3 linked regions of the Homo sapiens genome follow. The protein of the gene in region 1 interacts with the protein of each later gene in a pairwise test. Each region holds a gene or a part of one and is shown in the gene's direction. Other genes may lie near its edges. The genes, in order: ALB, TRIM69 and KCTD17.

Region 1 (3,825 bases):
AGAGAATATTTTAAGAACATATCTCTGCCCATCTATTTATCAGAATCCTTTTGAGATGTAGTTTAAATCAAACAAAATGTTAATAAAAATAACAAGTATCATTCATCAAAGACTTCATATGTGCCAAGCAGTGTGTGCTTTGTGTAGATTATGTCATATAGTTCTCATAATCCACCTTCCGAGACAGATACTATTTATTTTTTGAGACAGAGTTTTACTCTTGTTGCCCAGGCTGGAGTGCAATGGTGCCATCTCGGCTCACCACAACCTCCGCCTCCCAGGTTCAAGCGATTCTCCTGCCTCAGCCTCCTGGGATTACAGGCATGCACCACCATGCCTGGCTAATTTTGTATTTTTAGTAGAGATGGGGTTTCACCATGTTGGTCAGACTGGTCTCAAACTCCTGACCTCTGGTGATATGCCTGCCTCAGCCTCCTAAAGTGCTGGGATTACAGGCATGAGCCACTGTGCCCAGCCGACAGATACTATTATTATTTCCATTCTACCGAGAAGGAGACTAAGGCTCTGATCATTTAAATAAGTTGCCTAAGGTGATGCAGTGATATAAGTAGCAGAGCTAGGAATTGAGCCTTGGTAACTTTAACTCTGGACCCCAAGTCCTTAGCTACTAAGCTTTACTGCATGGGGTTTAGTCAAATTAAGACTTTTGGAATATGAGTTACTTTTGAGATTAGCTTTGTGATATTTTTTGTGCTCATTTGTCCAACAAAGTCTATTTTATTTTCATCTTAATTAGGTTTTTGTATGAATATGCAAGAAGGCATCCTGATTACTCTGTCGTGCTGCTGCTGAGACTTGCCAAGACATATGAAACCACTCTAGAGAAGTGCTGTGCCGCTGCAGATCCTCATGAATGCTATGCCAAAGTGGTAGGTTTATTGTTGGAAAAAAATGTAGTTCTTTGACTGATGATTCCAATAATGAGAAAGAAAAATAATGCAAGAATGTAAAATGATATACAGTGCAATTTAGATCTTTTCTTGAGATGGTTTCAATTCTGGAATCTTAAACATGAAAGAAAAAGTAGCCTTAGAATGATTAACAAAATTTAGACTAGTTAGAATAGAAAGATCTGAATAGAGCAATCTCTAAAAAATTTTGATCTTTTTTTCTCTTTTTCACAATCCTGAGAACAAAAAAAAATTAAATTTAAATGTTAATTAGAAGATATTTAACTTAGATGTAAAGTGAGTTAACCTGATTCCAGGATTAATCAAGTACTAGAATTAGTATCTTATGGCAAATTATAGAACCTATCCCTTTAGAATATTTTCAAATCTTTTTGAGGATGTTTAGGAATAGTTTTACAAGAAATTAAGTTAGGAGAGGAAATCTGTTCTGGAGGATTTTTAGGGTTCCCACTAGCATATGTAATGGTTTCTGAACTATTCAGAATCAGAGAAAACTCATTTTTCCTGCTTTCAAGAAGCTACTGTATGCCAGGCACCATGCACAAACAATGACCAACGTAAAATCTCTCATTTTGGAGAGCCTGGAATCTAACTGGAAAGGTGAACTAATAATAATAATATGTACAATCATAGCCATCATTTATTAAACTTTTATTATATGCAAGGCACTGTTTAATTTCATTAGCTTACCTGGTTTACAGAGCAGCTCTATGAGATGAGTGCCATCTTTGCCCCTATTTTAGGGATAAGGATTCTGAAATGTGGAGATGGTAAGTAAAATTGCACAACTGAAGAATGAGTTACATGACTTGGCTCAAATACTGGTCATTGAACTCCAGAGCCTGAATATTCTTAACCACTTACATGATGCAAGCTCACCAAATAAATAGTTCGAATGTATTGTGACAGAGCGGCATTGATATTCATCTATTCATGTGGCTTTGAGTAGGAAGAAGAAAGGATATCATTCTGACCAGAGGGGTGAAAAACAACCTGCATCTGATCCTGAGGCATAATACTATTAACACAATTCTTTTATGTTTCAGTTCGATGAATTTAAACCTCTTGTGGAAGAGCCTCAGAATTTAATCAAACAAAATTGTGAGCTTTTTGAGCAGCTTGGAGAGTACAAATTCCAGAATGCGTAAGTAATTTTTATTGACTGATTTTTTTTATCAATTTGTAATTATTTAAGACTTAATATATGAGCCACCTAGCATAGAACTTTTAAGAATGAAAATACATTGCATATTTCTAATCACTCTTTGTCAAGAAAGATAGGAGAGGAGAGATAAAATAGTTGATGGGGTGGAGAGGTCTATATTTGAATGTAGTCTAAAAATTGTTCTCTTAAGATTGGAAGTATGTAGGCTGGGAGGGTAAATACCAAATCTTGGTATATCAGAACTGAGCATGTCCCTTGAAGGTTAAGAAATAGTTAATGGGCAAATAGAGCATGGCAATATTTTGTAGAGCAGCAAGTAGTAGGCCTTGAATAGATGTCGCTCAAAAAGTAATATGTAAGCTGAACACAAAAATGTAACAAATGAATTTAGATACATATTTGAATATTAAATTCAGGTTGTTTGGGAGATGCACCTAGTCTTTGATGGTTAAACCTTTCCCTCCATAGAAGAGACAGAGACAGAATGGCTTGCTGGACTAATGTCCCAATTCAATAGAGTCTTATCTATGAAGGTTAAAAACAAGAAGAGACATATTATACAGTAGATATTTATTGTGTGGCTCATACACATGGTGCTCTTCTGATTATGGATTTTAGAGATAATAACAGTGAACAAGACATAGTTTCTTTCCTCGAGTAGATTAAAGTCATACATTGACTTTTAATGGTGACTGGCATTCTTAATACATGATTATTATATATTAGGTACCATGTCAGATTAATTATAATACTTTACTACTTTTAATTTAACCCTTGAACTATCCCTATTGAGTCAGATATATTTCCTTCCATTTTCTACTTGTATCTTTCAAGTTTAGCATATGCTGATACATATGAAGCTCTCTCCAGGTTTTATTGAAAGAAGAAATTAATAAATTTATTAATGTCACTGAATTAGGCAACTCACTTTCCCAAGATTATGCAAGTGGTACAGGTGGAACTCAAAGCCAAGTTTAACTAGTTGTTCAGGAGAATGTTTTCTACCCTCCACTAACCCACTACTCTGCAGATGGAGATAATATGATGAATGGAACATAGCAACATCTTAGTTGATTCCGGCCAAGTGTTCTCTGTTTTATCTACTATGTTAGACAGTTTCTTGCCTTGCTGAAAACACATGACTTCTTTTTTTCAGGCTATTAGTTCGTTACACCAAGAAAGTACCCCAAGTGTCAACTCCAACTCTTGTAGAGGTCTCAAGAAACCTAGGAAAAGTGGGCAGCAAATGTTGTAAACATCCTGAAGCAAAAAGAATGCCCTGTGCAGAAGACTATGTGAGTCTTTAAAAAAATATAATAAATTAATAATGAAAAAATTTTACCTTTAGATATTGATAATGCTAGCTTTCATAAGCAGAAGGAAGTAATGTGTGTGTGTGCATGTTTGTGTGCATGTGTGTGTGCATGCACGTGTGTGTATGTGTGATATTGGCAGTCAAGGCCCCGAGGATGATAATTTTTTTTTTTTTTTTGAGACGGAGTCTCGCTTTGTTGTCCAGGCTGGAGTGCAGTGGTGCCATCTCGGCTCACTGCAACCTCCGCCTCCCAGGTTCAAGCCATTCTCCTGCCTCAGCCTCCCAAGTAGCTGGGACTACAGGTGCATGCCACCATGCCTGGCTAATTTTTTGTATTTTTAGTAGAAAATTTTCAGCTTCACCTCTTTTGAATTTCTGCTCTCCTGCCTGTTCTTTAGCTATCCGTGGTCCTG
Region 2 (3,600 bases), on another chromosome or scaffold:
TAGGAGTTAAATGTCTTAGCTAAGGCTATTCAGTGCTCTGGTGGTGAGAGACAAGGCTTCCATCTTCTAGGCCAGTACTCTTACCCCTAGGCTAAAGGTTCAAAAATGTGCAGGCGCTGGCTTTAGTAAAATCAGCTATACTAAGCATTGTCAAATGTTTTAGCCAACAACAAAAACAATCAAGATGAAACAAAATTACTTTTTTGACTAAGTGATCACCAGCATTTCATAGACATTTATCTGACAAAGGTTTTGATCTAACAAATGCCATGTATTGCCAAGGTGAGCAAGATACAGTACTACCTATCCTGTGGTTTGTTCACAACTTAGTGGAGGGGCAGACATGCAATCAAACAATTAGAATACACTCTGTTAAAGCCACGTGTACAAAGATCTAGGGTGCTATAGAAATGTGTAAAACTAGGCCAGGCGTGGTGTTGCTCACACCTGTAATCCTAGCACTTTGTGAGGCTGAGGTGGGAGGACAGCTTGAGCTCAGAAATTTGAGATCAGCCTAGGCAACATAGTGAGACCCTGTCAGAAAGAAAAGAAAAAAGAAAAGAAAAGAAGGAAAGAAAGAGAAAGAGAAAGAAAGGGAGAAAGAAAGAAAGAGAGCAAGAGAGAAAGAAAGAGGAAAAAGAAAGGAAGAAAGAGAAAGAAACAGAGAGAGAAAGAAAGGGAGAAAGAAAACAGAAAGAGAGAGAAAGAAAGAAAGAGAAAGAAAAAAAGAAAGAGGAAAGAAGGAAGGAAGGAAGGAAGGAAGGAAAGAAGGAAGGAAGGAAGGAAGGAAGGAAGGAAGGAAGGAAGGGAGTAAAGCTGTGTTTCTCAACTGGGGAGTGATTCCAACCCCTGCCCCCAGGAGACATTTGGCAATGACTGGAGACATTTTTGTTATGACTGGGTTTGGTGGGGGGGGGGTGGCTACAGGCATCTAGTGTGTAAACGCCAGGGACACTGCTAAATATCCTAAAATTCACAGGACAGCCCCTCTAACGTAAGACTTAGCAGGCCCAAAATATCAATAGGGCTGAGGTTGGTAACCTCTGGTATAGAGCCAGCAAAATATCTTCTACAAGAGACAGGGAAGTGGGTAAAGCTTGGTTTGGGGATGAGGGGGTGGTTAGGGAAGAGTTTAGTAAAGAGATAATGACGGGGGTGTGGGGGAAGGGAAACTCCCATCCGAAGGGACAACATATACAAAGCTGCAGAAGCGTGACATATTTGGGCGATCCCAAACACTGGGGAAAGAGCTGTGGTCATTAAGTCTGGACAGCTAGGCAGGAGCTAGACGTGCAAGAAATCATATTGAGTTAGAGGAACTACTGTAAGAAAAACTGTTTGGCTCTGTGGTGGCTCTTTATAAGTCACTCAGGAGCACAGTGTTGGTACATCTCTCTGCGAGCTAAAACTGCTGAAGAAAGCTGTATGAAATGAAGCTTTTTTCATCCTGCTTTCTTAGGGCCTGGTGTTTCCCAGGCCTGTGTTACTGTCTCAGAGATAAAATCAGGGCTGCTTCATTGGAATATGAGAGGTGAACTAGCTCTCTATTAAAGCCACTCAGCTGGTGTCTTGATGGTGTGATGGGATCATGAACAGGGGTGAGGTGGTTATTTTTCATGAGTTAGGCTTAATATAGGCTGCTGCTGACGTGTATTTCCTCTTTCATAGAGCATCCTTAGTCCAGAAATGGGGAGCTATGAACCTTAAGATTAGACCACTAACTCGAATCTAAATGAGCTGCCCTTGTCTCCTACAAAAGAAAAGTTGGGCAGGTAGGGTATTCTAATGAGGGTTTCTCTTTCTCTTAAGCAAATGATGATCAAAGTTAACTGACAAACTGTCACGGAATCTGCCAGACCTCACTCTGGCCTTGCTGCTTCTCTCCAGCTCCTGAACTTTTCTTTCTTCCATCATGCTCTGAGCCCATTCCTTGAAAACTAAAAGGTCCCTGACTCCCAGTCTGCAGCCATCCTGGGCCTGCTGAGCTCTGATTCAAGTGCCTGCCTCTGCCCCTTGGTGGGCTGAAGCTTCATGGAGGTGAGTGACCCTTTTTTTTTTTAACTTAGCAGGGCTTCTAGGAATAGTGTGGAAAACAGGATCATAGAAGAGGATATGGATTTAGGAGCACAAAAGGAAATTCATGAAGGGAAGTATTTAACTTGTGACAGCTGGTAGCTACTATACTCTCTCCAAGCCTTGGAATAACTGATAATTTATACTAGAGAAGCTGGTAGGAAAGTAATGAAATCCACCAAAACATTTTGAGAAAAAATAAACTATATACTATATACAATTTACTTTCATTATCAATGTAATCATTTTATTTTAGATTTAAAAATTATTATGTATAACTTGGTTTGCTTACAATACCTTCACATTTGATTATTTTATATTTAAGGCAGAGTTGATACTTAGATAGTAAACATTTTTAATTGAATTCTTCCTTTAAGACCTCTTCAGAGCTAAAATAAAGGAAGTTATGTTCTTCTGAACTTAGTGTTTTCCTGATTGTCAAACAAAAGAAAATGGTTATTTACTACATGAAAGCTTGAAAAACTCACTAAGGGTTTTTCAGGGGCCCTTGAATCCTGAGTTATCATCCATTTCCACTAGTTTCCACTTCTTATAAAGTTTAATTTCATTATATTAATCATTAAGATCAGTTTCTAATTTCCTCTATCATAGGACCTTTAGGTTTGCTGCTACTCATCTCTGTGCTTAGCTATTGAAGCAAACAGGGCTATAAGCATTTTGTTTATAATTTCTAGGGCAAAAATAAACACTATTGCCTAAACCTACTATATTCTTATTACTTTAAGGCCAAGTCAGTGAAAATAGACACTTTTCCATAATAGTAAAAAAATTGTTTGTGTGATAGTGAGTTTCCCATTACTTCAGATGTTCAGGCAGAGGTTGGAAAGGAGTGAATTAAATGGCTTAAAATTTCTTTCAACTCTGGGAAGCTCCAAGAAGTCAGAAAGTTCAGAATCTTGCCTTCTTATGTGCAAATGGCTTGACTCGTGAAGCAGGAGTGTGTCTTGCTCTTAGGTTTAAGCTGGCTGTGCTATATAGTTTGTCTCTGTGGATGAACTGTATTTTTCTGCTCTCAAAGTTAATTCTTCATAAAAACTGCCCATCAAAGTTTAAAAATTACTTTGAAGGAATAAAGGTTGAAAAGCAACAAATGAACTCTCCTTAGATATCTTAACTATGATTTCAAAAATTTACAACACAAAACTTCTCAGGAAAAAAAAATCTCTGGTAAAAATTAAGGATTTCTTATGCAAGCTTCCATGGACTTCATAGCTCTTTGCCTTTTCTCTGCTCTTTGAGAATGTGCACAGTGAACTGAAGGAGGAAGATACATACTTTCTTTCTTTCTTTTTTTTTTTTTTTTTTTTTTAGGACAGAGTCTCACTCTCTTGCTCAGGCTGGAGTGCAGTGGCACCATCTCAGCTCACTGCAACCTCCGCTTCCAGGGTTCAAGTGATTCTCATGCCTCAGCATCCCAAATAGCTGGGACTGCAGGGACGCACCACCACGCCTGGCTAATTTTTGTATTATTATTTTTTTTTTTAGTAGAGATGAGGTCTCACCATG
Region 3 (3,825 bases), on another chromosome or scaffold:
GTGCATGCCTGTCATCCCAGCTACTCAGGAGGCTGAGGCATGAGAATTGCTTGAACCCAGAAGGCAGAGGTTGCAGTGAGCTGAGATGGTGCCACTGCACTCCAGTCTGGGTGAGAGAGTGAGACTGTATCTCAAAAAAGAAAAAGAGAGAGAGAGAGAGAGAGAGAGAGAGAGAGAGAGAGATAGGGGTCTCACTATGCTGTCCAGGCTGGTCTTGAACTTCTATGCTCAAGCGAGCCTTGGCCTCCCAAAGTGCTGGGATTACAGGTGTGAGCCACCGCACCCAGCCTACGCTAGATGTTTATAGACATTTCATAACTTAATCTTCACAGCAATGCTCTGGGGTCACAACTGTTGTAAATCCCATTTGGCAAGAGAGAAAGCCAATCTCAGAGAGGAAGTTGCTCAGGACACACCTAGTGAATTTTAAGTAGCAGGATTCCAGTACACCTTTGATCCACTCCCTGCCAAGGAGAAAAGCTTTATGCAGAAAGCAGGGCATTGGGTGGTAACAGGGAAACTTCTCCCAGCACAGGGCCAGGCTGCCCAGTGTTCGGGCCAGCTGCGTGTGACATTGGATCAGTGAGAGGAGCCCCAGACCTCTCCCCCATAGGCCAGGACCAGGACTGAAACCAGTAAGGAGAGGAAGCTAAGGAGACAGCTTCCTCGTCAGCCCTTGTCCCTCCCTGGTCCCGGACCACATGAGGAACTGCTCCCTTCCCCCATCCTGAGGTCCACAGAATGACGGTTCCCCTCCGAGTTAACTGGGGAATAACTCAGAAAGCCACCCGCAGAACCAATCCCTCCTCCTTCTTAGGGAGGACGTGGAAAAACTGAGAAAGGCCAAAAGCCAGAATGGAAACTCAGTTCTCCTGACTCGGATCCAGGGCGTGCTCTACTCTTCCTCCTTAGAAGTCTTTCCCAAGGATCCCTGACATTCCATGGTCAGGGAGCAGGAAAGAGACCTTGGTGGGTACTCACTCACCAGCAATGTGAGTAGGGCGGTCACTTCGCTTCTGTGGCTTCATCTGTAAAATGGGTATAGCCCAAAATACCAGACTCACAGGGCTGCTGAGAGCTTAAATTCATAACACATATACACAAAGTGTCTGGCATACAGGTGCTCAGCCAACCTCAAGTCCAGCTATGTCGTTCTCCAAGAACTCAGGTGAGGGAAAGAACCCACTCCCACCCACCCCGCCCCCACCCCTATACACACAAAGGGCAAATGAAAAAATATGACGAAACACATGCGGGTCAATGCTATGGGGATTCCTGGAGGGGAAAGTTTCTTCCCTTATCAGCTGTTGGACGACGGAGACGGCACAAAGGAAAAACAAGAATGCTCGGACCCATGGGATGACTGCAGATTTGGGGAAGCCCTCATTCTTTTCCCAGAGGCCGGGAGTTCGACCTTCCCCATACACAGTGATTTGGCCAGAGGGCATCTTCACCACCCCAGACTGCGGGCCTGCGGGGAAGGGCGAAGCGGGGCGGGACCGGGGGCGGGAGCAGCGCGGGGCGGGACCCTACCCGCGGCCCACGCGGAGCCAGGAGGCGCGGACTACAGCTCCCGGCCTGCCCCGCGTGCGGTCCCCGCCCGCCCCCAGCGCCCGGGAGGAGGATGCAGACGCCGCGGCCGGCGATGAGGATGGAGGCCGGGGAGGCAGCGCCGCCGGCGGGGGCGGGCGGCCGCGCCGCAGGCGGCTGGGGCAAGTGGGTGCGGCTCAACGTGGGGGGCACGGTGTTCCTGACCACCCGGCAGACGCTGTGCCGCGAGCAGAAGTCCTTCCTCAGCCGCCTGTGCCAGGGGGAAGAGCTGCAGTCGGACCGGGTGAGGCCCCCGGGGTGGGCGGCGAGCGGGCGGTGGGTCCTCCGCTCGCCCGACGCGGGGCTGTCGGGCCTGGCTCGCCCGCCAGGCTGGGGACCCGGCCGGGTTCATTTCCGAGGAACTGGAGGCGGGAAGAAGCGGCAGGAGGAGGGGAGGGGGAGGTGGGTCTGGTAGTGAGGGATGTACCCATTGCCGTGGCAACGGGACGACGCAGGCCGCGGCCATTAGAAGCTCTCCAGCCGCCCCGGATCGGGGCCTCTCCTTCTCCTTTGGGGCTGTGGACAGGGAGAGACCTGGGACCTTTCCTCCCTCCCAAAGGGGACTCCTGCTCTGGGGAAGGAGTCGACGAGGCTACTTCTCCCGCTCTTTGGGATGTGGGTGGCGGAGGGGTGCAGGGAGCTAGCTGGATGGAGGAGCCCTGGGGCGCCTTCTGAGCGGGCTGAATCTAGAAGGAGCGTTGGCCCAGCGGGCACTATTTCTGAGCACCCACCCTGACTCTGCTGCACACTGCCTGCCGCGACCTTGAGTCGGACCCTTCCCTGCACTGCGCTCAGCCTCCTTCCTCATCTGTAACACGAAGGGCTGGTCTGAAGATGACCTCTAAGGTCTCCTGTCCCCCATCCGTGACCCTCCGATGCTGTGGCCTTTGGCAAGTCGCCTCACCTCTCAATGTCTCCGATCTCTCTGTAGAGTCGCATGGAAGCCCACCCTGCCTCCCTGCCCGCCCGAGTGTCCAGTGAGATAGTGACTCCTTTGGAAACTTGTAAACATCCCCTGAAAGCCTAGGGACCTGGGGGCGACAGTGGGGCTGGCTTCAGGGGACAGCCTCTCAGAGGGACATTCTTCGAGCCCTGTGCTGGGCCAGTTGCCACTCAGACATCCTCTCACCGGATGCTCACAGCAAACCCTGATTAGGGGGAGAGGAGTGAGTTTCAAAGAGGCCAAATCATTAGCCTAAGGTCACACATTCAGGAAGAGTCAGAAGCAGGGCTTGAACTCAGGTCCATCTGACCCCAGTGCCTTTTTGCTACTTTGTGCCTGCTCCATCCAGGGAAGAGCTCTCCCTCCACTCTCCTTCCCTCCCTGTGCGTGTGCGGGGTTGGCTGGGGAGAAGCCTCACTCTTCTCTCACCGAGCATCCCTCACCTCCATAGGATGAGACCGGGGCCTACCTCATTGACCGTGACCCCACCTACTTCGGGCCCATCCTGAACTTCCTCCGGCATGGCAAGCTGGTGCTGGACAAGGACATGGCTGAGGAGGGTGAGTTGGTCCAGGGGGCTGGCCTGGACCTTATGCAGCCTGCCAGGGCCCTCTGTGGAGGCCCCAAGCCATTTGGACAACCAGGACGGCCATCTGCCTGCTTGGTTGTTTCCTGCCTCTTCCCAGTCGGACGGGGCTGATTCCCAAGCATCTGCCTGTGCCGAGCCTGGGGCTCTGCCAAGCGGACGGGCTCAAGCTTTCCCTGGGTACTGTCAGGGAGGTGAAGAGACACATGTGCAGGGGATAGAGGAAGTCAGCGAGGCCCTGTGGCCTCTGCTGTGGGCTGTGACGCCCTTTCTCTCTGGCCTCCTAGGAAGCCAGGTGTGGACGGTCACATCCGGAGGCTGGGGTGACAGGAATGCAGTGTTGACAGGCATGGGGAGAGCTCTGTCTCTCTTTCTCTGGCTGATCCAGTATCTCAAATTCTGCCTGGTGAGGGCTTGTAAGTGGGTGGAGCGGGTGACTGTTCACTAAGTCTGGCAGCCTGTGCGGCACAGTGCTGGCTGTGGGTGGAGGCAGGAGAGGGGGGAGTCTGCTTCCCAGTGGGGCTTTGGTTATCCCCAGGCCTAGGTGGCCGAGGCCCTGGATATGCCCATATCCGGGCCTAACAAACAGTGGGGAGGCCATGTCTGGGAGAACGACCTGTTAGCAGAGCTGCAGCCAGGGGCAAGGACTACAGTCAGTGCCAAGTTAACTCTTCTTTGGGACACAGGGTGTGGCTCTGGGTCAGCT

The links.
Region 2: the proteins of ALB (region 1) and TRIM69 interact in binary tests that used the Homo sapiens proteins (3 or more experiments, as listed by UniProt).
Region 3: the proteins of ALB (region 1) and KCTD17 interact in binary tests that used the Homo sapiens proteins (3 or more experiments, as listed by UniProt).

What each region holds. Positions count from the first base shown.
Region 1 is NC_000004.12:73,414,278-73,418,102, forward strand, and holds part of ALB (albumin preproprotein), read left to right. Parts: intron 1-757; coding exon 758-890; intron 891-1,978; coding exon 1,979-2,076; intron 2,077-3,253; coding exon 3,254-3,392; intron 3,393-3,810; coding exon 3,811-3,825. UniProt on the Homo sapiens protein: Binds water, Ca(2+), Na(+), K(+), fatty acids, hormones, bilirubin and drugs. Its main function is the regulation of the colloidal osmotic pressure of blood. Major zinc transporter in plasma, typically binds about 80% of all plasma zinc.
Region 2 is NC_000015.10:44,734,674-44,738,273, forward strand, and holds the start of TRIM69 (E3 ubiquitin-protein ligase TRIM69), read left to right. Parts: upstream 1-1,854; 5' UTR 1,855-2,031; coding exon 2,032-2,037; intron 2,038-3,600.
Region 3 is NC_000022.11:37,050,116-37,053,940, forward strand, and holds the start of KCTD17 (BTB/POZ domain-containing protein KCTD17), read left to right. Parts: upstream 1-1,626; 5' UTR 1,627-1,645; coding exon 1,646-1,834; intron 1,835-2,984; coding exon 2,985-3,093; intron 3,094-3,825. UniProt on the Homo sapiens protein: Substrate-adapter for CUL3-RING ubiquitin ligase complexes which mediates the ubiquitination and subsequent proteasomal degradation of TCHP, a protein involved in ciliogenesis down-regulation.